Regions from separate parts of the Homo sapiens genome. Here region 2 is linked to region 1. The links come from fine-mapping of genetic effects on gene expression. A gene starts in region 1. The other region holds a variant in brackets. All regions are shown on one strand. Distances are from middle to middle.

What was found. PIP is the estimated chance that this variant, and not a neighbour inherited with it, causes the effect. A credible set is the group of variants that fine-mapping cannot tell apart.
Region 2: its variant is the best candidate, but not a certain one, in a credible set for the expression of PLCE1 in subcutaneous fat (TwinsUK, PIP 0.82).

Annotation. Positions count from the first base shown.
Region 1 is chr10:93,991,431-93,996,810 of GRCh38, reverse strand. PLCE1 (phospholipase C epsilon 1) reads right to left here and starts at 2,880. Exons shown (of 33, transcript NM_016341.4): 1 at 2,553-2,880. It overlaps LOC105378438 (a long non-coding RNA gene), which reads right to left. Exons shown (of 4, transcript XR_946215.2): 4 at 3,092-3,591. RefSeq lists a silencer at 2,777-3,066.
Region 2 is chr10:94,520,511-94,525,890 of GRCh38, reverse strand. TBC1D12 (TBC1 domain family member 12) reads right to left here. Exons shown (of 13, transcript NM_015188.2): 10 at 3,808-3,936; 11 at 3,438-3,547. Among named protein-coding and RNA genes, the nearest start is that of HELLS, 23 kb to the left of the region's middle. The variant G/TTTG (reference allele first, on the strand shown) is at 2,699.

The DNA of each region.
Region 1 (5,380 bases):
CATTTAACTAATTTCAATTCAAATGTAAATAGCCATATGTGGCTAGTGACTACCATGTTGGACAATGTAGCCTCCGAGGGCTTGGTTCCCAATCTGGCCCACGAAAATCTATTTAAGCCATAACACAGATGAATTATAGCCTCGGTAAAAACCCTGCATTCTGCATCCAGGGAGCAGAGAGGAACACATGATGCTAGAGAGAGTTCTGCCCTTCTTTGTAGGCCACATGGTTGGCCTATAACAAAATGCATCTTTGATATCGTCTTCCTCTCTTTCTCCATTCCCTACTCCTCCATCTCCAACTCTCCTCTTTGGGCCTTACATAACTAAATCACATGCTTCCCTAAAACCCTATCAGAACCTTCCACCCCTCTTCCAGAAGCACCATGTTTCCTAATCACCTGTCTTCCCTCGCCTCAACCAAACCCCTACTTGCTCAATGCCACAGATCTCAACTGAACGTTGGGAGGAAAGCAACTTCAGCAAACAAATTCACACTCTTAGCTGCTTCTACTGTTTTTGGCTTTTCCTCTGCTTCTCCTTCTGAACCCAGAAGCTCTGTTTTATTGTTCTTCCACCGCAGAAGTAGTTCCGGCAGAGAGAGAAGGCATTAAGACTAAAGCAACTGTCCTATATAGGCGCCTGTCAGCCAGGTGTGTGGAACACACACGCGCGCGCACACACACACACACACACGTGCAGCAAGCCTCACTCTGTGCAAATCCCTCCTCTTGCCCAGGCATGGGAAACGTCCCCTGCTGTCTACTTTAGAAAACTCTTCCACCATGCACAGTATTTTTTCAATCTTCTTTTATTCATTTAGAAAGTTACAGGTAACAAATTGCACATCAAACAGTTTTTTTAAAGTATACAACAAAAGCCCAGAGAAGAATGTGACTAAGAATGGTTGTAAATAGAAAAACAAAACCAACCGCCTTCATTGGAATCTAGCTTCTAACCCACTGGAGTATGGAATTTTTAATGACAGGTCAAACTTGGACCACATCCCAGGAGTTTATGTTACTAAGAGGACTGGAAGAATGTCCCTCCAGTTCAATCTGGCTTCTTACCTGGTAAGACATGGCTCCTGGGTATAAAGGGAATTTCCCCCATGGGGCTGTAAATAAAGGATAGTGTTAATGGTAAACATTATACATTCCTCTAGCTCCTTTCAATTATATTATCTCCTTCTCCAAAGTAGATATTTATGTTGTAAAACCAAAGTCTTAAGATTTAATACTGGCCCACAATTATCTCTAGAGTCTTCTAGGTGCAAGCATTTTGCCATGAAAGCCACAGCAAATGCCTTCAGTAGGGAAAATGAGACATCTACATAAATAACTCCCAGAAGGTAGAGAGCAGAAAGGGCCCTGGAGAAAAAATGCTGCAGAAATCAGAGCAGGGGGAGGTTGGCTGTTTCAGGAAAAGCCTCACACCACCAGCAAAACACAGTTTGAAGGATGGTTAGACTTTAGAGTGGTGGATGTGGGGGAAGATGTGCCATCAGATGGTCTAGATGACAACACCATCAGACATTCTTCAGAAAAGTATTTATGAAGACATCGATGCATACAATAACCTAGAGATAGTCCACCTCTCTCCTCAATGACAACTGGGCACCTGTACAAGCACCTATGGGGTCACCTGCTTCCACCTCCCAAGTCAGGCTCTCAAAAATTCTCCCTAGTGGGGTCAAGCATTCTTGGCCTCAGTAGTGCCCATTCTGTGGCAGCGGCCCTGCCCTACCTCTACGGGGGGTATAAGAAACATGAAAACATACCAATCCTGCAGAGATCTAAAAGACCTACGGGCAAATTTTGCATAATGCAACTGAAATTATGACCTTCGTGCAAATAAAACTTTTCGAAGACGTGAATCCTACTTAACAGGTATTCAGGGAACTCACTATTTAAAATGACACTGATTAATCACTAAATGAGTCTTACACTGAATAATTGGTTAAGTCGGCTGAACTCAGTGTCTGATGGCTTAAATACAGAGCGAGGGGCGAAAGCTTCCACAAATTTACGCTGTGCACCTAACATTCGCCACGACAGAAGACTTCTTGCTCTAGTGTATTTATTACTGTAGCATTAAAGGACTTGAAGGCAAAGCTAGCTATTCTAGTTATCAGTTAGAGCGGGACCTGGTCCAATATTGTATTTTCTAGGACTTGATGTACACAAATCTCTCCAGGAACAATCTCTTGAGCACTTTCCTTGAAATACCGCTGCTAAGTACCGCCACAAAAAGAGCTTACGTTTTTCTTTGCACTGGCCACCTCCACACCGTATTCACAACACGAAGGGGCGACCTGAGGCAGGCGTCTGGAGTGAAGGCACTGGCAGGGTGTCCTTTAGCCCCTGCGAGGGCGGCCTGCATGCCCTGGAGGACCGCCCGCCTCGGGTCCCCCGGGAGCGCGAGGACACTTTTCCGCCAGGTACGCGGAGTCGGGCTGCTCCCTTAGGCGGGTCGACTGCCTTGGGAGAGAACCAGCCCATCCTTCCCTTTCTCCAGTCCTCAGGAACCGAGCTACAGAGTCGCTTCCTCACCTCTTGGCTCCTGGCGAGTCTCGCCGGCGTCCCCAAGCGCAGCGTCCCTCTGGGACCAGCCGTCCGCGCGCCTGTCGCTAGCGGCGTCGGGTGTCCCCGCTACTGTGTGTCAGCTGCAGAGCCGATGCCCAGGAACGCGCAGGAGCCAGGCAAGTGCCCGAGAGGCAGAGCCCGGGAGGCAGAGCCCGGGAGGTAGAGCCCGGGCGCGCCGCCGCTGCCCCTCCCGCCGCGCGAGCCCGCCGCCCGCCGCGTTGCCCACGTTGCCCAGCGTTACCGTGTGGACCCGCGCCGTTCACAGTCCGCTCCCGCCGAGATGTGCGCGCTGCCCGGACAGCGGCGGCTGCGCGGGCGGCAGCGGGGCCCCCGCCCTGGGCCGGGCTTTCCCAGAACTCGCCCGCCCCGGGTGAGAGGCCGCTAGCGCCACCGCGGGCGGCCGGGCGGGGGAGCGGCCTGTGCCGGGCCCGCCCCCGGCTCCTGCCGCGCGGGGAAGGCGGGCGCGGAGCGAGGACCCGGCCGCCTCCCCCGGAGCTGGCTGCTGGCGGCGCGACCCCTTCCCAGACCCCTGGCCCTGACCCCTAGGAGCCATCCTTTCTGGCGGGAGCCAGAGAGAGCGCTCCTGGGGCGCCCGGCTCCGGGAAGGGCGGGAACTCTGCACACCTCAGGCGGCGGGAATTTACTCTCACACTACCCCAGGGAACCACCCCTGGTTGACAGATATGGAAACTGAGGTTCACGGCAGATAAAGGACACGATCAAGGTCTCTGTAGTAGATGGCAGCACCAAGTCTCGAATCTGTTCTGTCACTCGTTCATTTAATACATATTCATTGAGCCCCATCAATGTGCCCAGCGTTGTGCCAGGCTCCGGAAATACTCCTTTTGCTGGTAATGGTGGCCATCCAGGACTGCGGACTCCAAATCCAGTACTCTTTCATTGCTCAAGCAAACCTGAAGATCTTCACAACTAGAAACTACAGGCTTTGCACAGAACTTCCTTAGCCGCTGGAGCGGCTTTTATGAGTCTTAGGAGAGCCAAGGACCTGGAAAAAAAAATCAAATCATCATCCTCCTCCCTTTCGCCTAAACCTGTGCCTCCTCCCTCTACCTGTTCTAATGGAAGACCGTTCCCTAGGCCTGACCTCTTCTCCTACATCCGATCAGGACCCATTCCTGTGGCCCATATCGCCTCCCACTGTCCTCTCCCTTGGACCAAATCAATCCTTCAAACCACCGCTGTATTATTCTTCCTTTTTTACAACTTTAATCTATGCAGAAAACTTCACTGGCTCCCTATTGCCCTCCAAACTAACTCTCCATGGCTGTGTAACCCAGCATGCCCTGGCTAATAAGGATCACCCAACAGAATGTCTCTCCCACTCTAGCTCTGTACCTGAACTTAAGCTGAGCCTTCTACCTGGAGCATCTCCTCCCACACACTTTCCTCCTGCTCATGTTTGACCCTTTCTTTCGGGTCCCTCTTAAAAGTGATCTCTCCTTCTTGGAGGCTCCAGAACACAGGAGAGGTTGGAGCAAGAAAGCACAGGAGGCCCAAAGAATCCTGCTGTTAAGAAAAATCTGCCAGTCTGGTCCTTAAACTGTCTTGCTGTTTTCTCACCACTAGGACTTTAATGAAAACTAACATGATTGCCTCCCTGGAGAGCTGATTTCAGAAAGGTCTCTGCAGAGGGCTCTAAAGAAATTCTTTGTTCCTTAAGATCTTGGCATTTTAGCACTAGGACAGTGAGAAGTGGTAATTTACTCAATCCCTGAGGCTATGTTATCCTGAACAAGTAAATAAAGGGCTGAGGAAAGAGGTAGCATCACTGACAATAAACAAGGTAGGCTATTTATTTAATATACAGTATTATATTATGGTTTTATAATTCATTTAATGATCAAATAATATCAAACTTCATCCATCACCTGGCACCCCCAAAGACTTTTTTTTTTTAATTTGGCACATGGGAATAGATAGCTACAAACTGGTAGATGCACAAGCAGTTAACATTGAATCCTCCAAATGAGTCATTGCATGATTAGTAAGCAAGGCAAATCTAGGTCCGTTGAGCAGGAAAGTTATCCAAGTGTGATAATCACTGTGGCCCCATCCCTAGAAAGGGGCGCCTTCCTCAAATCTTTGCAAAGAGAGCAGGTCCAGATCAGTGTCCTTTGCTCGCCCCATGGCTCCCTCTCTAAACGAGATTGGAGGGAAGTCGTGTCCCCGAGGCTGCCTCACCACATTGGAATGTCTGAGCTAACAGTACTTCCAGAGTGTTCATTGCTCCTCTGAACAGCACTGCCCAGACTTTCTGGAGATTTTAATTCACTCCCCAACCTCGCCAACAGTTGCACACAAGGTGCCTTTTTTACACCCTGCTCTCTGTTCAGTGAAACACACAGACCATCTCAGGGGAACAATGGCTCCATTCAAGACTTTTTCAGAAGTGCACCATATAACCTCCACTCTGTGGGCTGCTGCCAGCCATTATCTAGAGGAAGAAAGACTGTCAGATAAAGCGCCTGAGAATTGGGAAAGCACTGGATAATTTCCATGGAAAATTCAGCTTCAGTAAACTAAGTTATGCATCTCTTTATACAAGACCATTCTGCATAGACAACAACAACAGCCCCAAGAAACAATCCTGTGGAGACTTTATTTCAGTAAAGTGCATCTATGTTTGAAATTTCAGAAGAAAACACACATGTCTTTTGAGCTTATTACATTACATACTGGTCTCCAGTCAATGGAAATTGATTTAAATACATGATAAACATAGAGACTAGGGAATTTAAGTAGTAAAATTATTTTAAGAAACGGAACCATCTTCC
Region 2 (5,380 bases), 530 kb before region 1:
TCACTATACATTATATGTACAGAAACATCACTATGTACCCCATGGATATGTACAATTATTATGTGTCAACTAAAAAAAATATTTTAAAACTTCAAAAGAGTGAAAAGAAAAAGAAATCTTAATTCCATTAAACCACATAGCTTAAGAAATTAACTTTTAGAAAATGTAATATACATTGTTACATTGTTGCAATTACGGTTTTTTTGTTTAGCTTTTTTTTTTTTTTTTTTTGAGACGGAGTCTTGCTCTGTAGCCCAGGCTGGAGTGCAGTGGCGTGATCCCGGCTCACTGCAACCTTGGCCTCCTGGGTTCAAGCGATTCTCGTGCCTCAGCCTCCTGACTTACTGCAACCTTGGCCTCCTGGGTTCAAGCAATTCTCGTGCCTCAGCCTCCCGAGTGGCTGGGACTACAGGCACAGGCCACCACATCCGGCGTATTTTTAGTAGAAACAGGGTTTCACCATGTTGGCCAGGCTGGTCTGGAACTCCTGAGCTCAGGTGATTTGCCCACCTCGGCTTCCCAAAGTGCTAGGATTACAGGCATGAGCCACCATGCCCAGCCATTATATTTTCTTTAAAAAATGTTTATTTATATTGTATAATACTTGAACAGCAATGATTCGACCTTCACTATGACATTCTACTTCTGCATCTCAATTTCTTCAGCTCTAAAATGATGAATTTGGATTACTTCCAGTTCTAAAATCCCACCTCTCTTACAACTAAAAAAACCCTAAATATTCCTCTTCAGTAAAATCAGTGTTGGTCATGTTGTAGTTAACTTTATAAAGAATATGGTTTCTGGAACTGGACTGCTGAGGTTTTAGTTTCTATTCTGCCATTTATTAACTGTGAAATATTAGGTATGGTACTCAAGCCTATCAAAATTTCAGTATCAATTATCCAGGCATGGTGACGCATACCTGTAATCCCAACTACTCAGGAGGCTGAGGTGGGAGGAATGCTTGAGCCCAGGAGTTCCAGGTGGGAGGAGCTGTGATTGCGCCACTGCACTCCAACCCGGGCAACAGAACTAGACTGTCTCAAAAAATAAAAAATAAAAAAAAAATTTTTTAATGAACGAAAAAATAAAAAACAAAATTTCAGGTTCCCCATCAGTATGTGGTAAAAATTACAGTACATATCTTTTTTTTTTTTTTTTTAATGGAGTCTCGCTCTGTCTAGAGTGCTGTGGCGCGATCTCGACTCACTGCAACCTCCAACTCCCTGGTTCAAGGGATTCTCCAACCTCAGCCTCCCAAGTAGCTGGGACTACAGGCATGCACCACCATGCCTGGCTAATTTTTCTATTTTTAGTAGAAATCGGGTTTCACCATGTTGGCCAGGATGGTCTCGATCTCCTGACCTCGTGATCCGCCTGCCTCGGCCTCCCAAAGTACTGGGATTACAGGCGTGAGCCATCATGCCCTGGTTTACAGTACATATCTTATGTGGTTGTTCTGATTAAACAGAAAAAAAGTATGTGTGGTAGAAACTGGCTGTTTACCAAACCATTTCTTTTTCTTTCTGGGCAAACAGCTAAACCACATTTTGCATCTTCACTTGCAGTTAGTTGTGGCCACATGACTGAGTCCTGGCCAGTGGAATGTGAGAGGAGGAGATGCGTAATACCTCTAGGCTTAGCTTCCCAAAATCTCCCCTTGTGAGTCTCCTTGTTCTCTCCCCTTCTGTGAAAACCCTGAAAATGCCTTGTTAAAGACGGTGGAAGTAAAAAATGGAAGGAACGTTGGTGCCTGAATTACAGGTTGTAGGAGAGCTGTATGCCTATTAGGAACACCATTAATATCATTAGTCTTAATATGACAAACAAAAAGTCTAAAAAACTTTGAACTTTAAACACAAGTAATAAAATGGTGATCCTGTCTGCAGTATACATGATTTGGCAACATACATAATTTTTTTTTAATAGGATCTCGTTCTGTCACCCAGGCTGGAGGACAGTGGTGCAATCATAGCTCACTGTAACCTTAAACTCCTGTGCTCAAGCAATCCTCCCACCTCAGCCTCCTGAGTAGCTGGGACTACAGGAATGCACGACTATGTCTGGCCAATTTTTTTATTTTTATTTTTTGTAGAAATGGGGTCTTGCTGTGGTGCCCAGGCTGGTCTCAAACTCCTGGCCTCCAGCAATCCTCCCGCCTTGGCCTCCCAAAGTGCTGGGACTACAGGCGTCAGCCACTGCACTTGGCCTTTTTTTTTAAGCTAGAGAAAATCTAGGAAATAAAATTGTGTGTGGAACAGTAAAAAGCTGAGCTATTCATATGTGAAACTTGGAGAAAGTATATCGTATTTACATTTATTACATTTTTAAAAAAAATTTCAGACAATATGTAAGAAGGGAGATCAAATTAAAAAATTCAAATTGGTGTCATCTTGGGGAAAAAAAGCTTGATAAAACCTTGAAATAAAAAGAAACAATATGAAGCCCTTAGTAAAGAAACACTATTATAACTATCATAAGCCCTTGTGTGTTAATAATAAAATAAATAGCAACTAACTCTGAGAGCTTAGTATGTGCTAGGCATTGAATGAGATAATCCACGTAAAACACCCTCGCTACAACTCAAGATAAAGATAATATTATTCCCAATTTATAGACAAAAAACTGAAACACAAACTGAGAGATTCTGATTTCAACCCAGAGTCTATGCTCTTTTTTTTTTTTTTTTTTTTTTTTT[G/TTTG]AGATAGAGTTTCGCTCTGTTGTCCAGGCTGCAGTGCTGGGGTGTGATCTCGGTTCACTGCAACATCTGCCTCTCAGGTTCCAACAATTGTCCTGCTGCAGCCTACAGCGACTACACCCAGCTAAGTTCTTTTTTTTTTTTTTTTTTTTGAGCTGGAGTCTCGATCTGTCACCAGGCTGGAGTGCAGTATCGCAATCTTGGCTCACTGCAACCTCCCGCCTCCTGGGTTCAAGCGATTCTCCTGCCTCAGCCTCCCAAGTAGCTGGGATTACAGGTGCATGCCACTATACCTGGCTAATTTTTGTACTTTTAGTAGAGACAGGGTTTCACCATGTTAGTCAGGCTGGTTTCGAACTCCTGACCTCGTGATCCACCCACCAAAGTGCTAAGATTACAGGCATGAGCCACCGTGCCTGGCCAAGACTAAGTTTTTGTATATTTAGTAGAGACGGGGTTTCGCCATGTGGGACAGGCTGGTCTTGAACTCCTGACCTCAGGTGATCCGCCCACCTCGGCCTCCCAAAGTGCTCGGATTACAGACATGAGCCACCACACCCAGCCGAGTCCATGCTCTTAATCAAATGCGTCCCCACAAAAATTTGGAAGTTTCTAAATTTGTAAAAGAAGGCTCTTTATATGTAAAATCCTGCACATGAGATTTACTCTAGTTCCTAAAACACACAAAAAGTTATACTTTATTTCCTTTTCATTATTATATATTACGTATGTTATGACTTACCAGTCTATCAAGTATATATCTGGTGTAAGACTGTAAGATTTGAAGTGAAGAAATAATTTGGAAAGATTTTCTTCAAAGAATACTTCAAATGTTGCAAAATATTTCAACATCTAAAGATTAAAAAATCAATAAAATTATGAAAGTATATAGTCTAGAAATAAAGAAATTAAACGCTTAAACACTAACAGGAAATCGTGCTCATTAAGAATCTCATCTTTTTCTGAGTCTTCTCAGCAAACATTCATTAATAAACTATAATATAATGATAAGTTTATATTAGATTAGATTGTTTTGGCCTTCTAATTATTGTTTTTCACTCTAAGAGGGCATTCAAACTACAGAAACAATGGAAAACATGATCCATTCATACCATGCTGTGATCCACACGAAAAAAGGCCAACTGGCATGGCTTATTCAGGAGATTGGCAAATGCGATAAAGGCATCTGCCTCTTCCAAATTGAGAATGAGTACTGCTGCAATGAAGGACATCCCTTGGACCTTCAAAGGGAGAAAAATTTAGTCAAAATGGACTTACAATAATAAATCTATATAGTTTATTTTATTGTACTCCTGAAAAATTACAGTGACATTACAAAGTAGAATTAACCAAGATTTCTTTTTTCCTTCCCAGCAAAGGTAAATACAGAGAGCCCCTAATGATTACGAAATCTCCCTAATTTCTTGTTCATATGGTGTGGTTTTTCAACATTAGGGAGAATTTTTGAAAAACAAAAAAGTATCAGATTTTACTGCTACAAAAGGCTATCTCAGCGTATTACCTAGTTTTCATTTCCTCTCAGTCTGAATTCTTTCAAAATAGAGTACAGAATCACAAAATTTAATAAAAATCAGGTGATTATTTTCATTGTTATAACACATCTGAGTAAAAAATGAAGGACTCAGAATAAAAGAGATCTATCAGAAGTGCTGCTGAAATACCAAGAAAGGAGACGTTGTGGGGGTTGAGCCTGGAGTCCTGGAAAAGCAAGAGACAGAAATAGGAAAAAACCTAAAATGGAAAAGAAGCATGAACTAAGACACAAAAATGGGAACAATAGGACCAGCTCAGCTGGAGTAAGGAAAGGCATTTAGAGAAGGTAGGATGTGTTTATGTTGTGAAAGACCTTGAGTAAAAGGCTAAGCTGTATAGATGTTTGCTTCTTGCTTGTAAGTTATTGGCAGCTATCATATACTTCTTCTCCTGTTTTTTTTTTGTTTTTTTTTTTTTTTTGGTTTCTTTTTTTTGAAGCAGGGTCTCACTCAAGTCACCTAGGCTGGAATGCAGTGGCATATCATCTCACTGCAACCTCTGCCTCCCAGCTCCAGCTATCCTCCTGCCTCAGCCTCCTGAGTAGCTGAGACTATGGGTGTGTACCACCACGCCTGTCCAGCCCATACATTTGTTTAATTAAAAAAAAAAGTTATCACTTACTTCTAGAAGAGATTTGTATAATGGACTTACACAGTGAGACCATTAAGAATAACTGCAATGGGCCAGGCGCAGTGGCTCACGCCTGTAATCCCAACACTTTGGGAGGCCGAGGCGGGCGGATCACCTGAGGTCAGGAGTTCAAGACCAGCCTGGCTAACATGGTGAAACCCTGTCTCTACTAAAAATACAAAAAATTAACCGGGCGTGGTGGCAGGTGCCTGTAGTCCTAGCTACTCAGGAGGCTGAGGCAGGAGAATGGCGTGAACCTGGGAGGCGGAGCTTGCAGTAAGCCAAGATTGCGCCACTGCACTCCAGACTGGGTGACAGAGCGAGACTCGGTCTCAAAAAAAAAAGAACACCTGCAATGATAACTCTGTCTCTTGTTCCCAGCCAAGTGTTTTGAAAGGGATGCCTACAATCACTATCTCTATTTTCTCAGCTCCCTTTTCTTTTATTTTTTTATTTTTTTGAGATGGAGTTTCACCCTTTTAGCCCAGGCTGGAGTGCAAT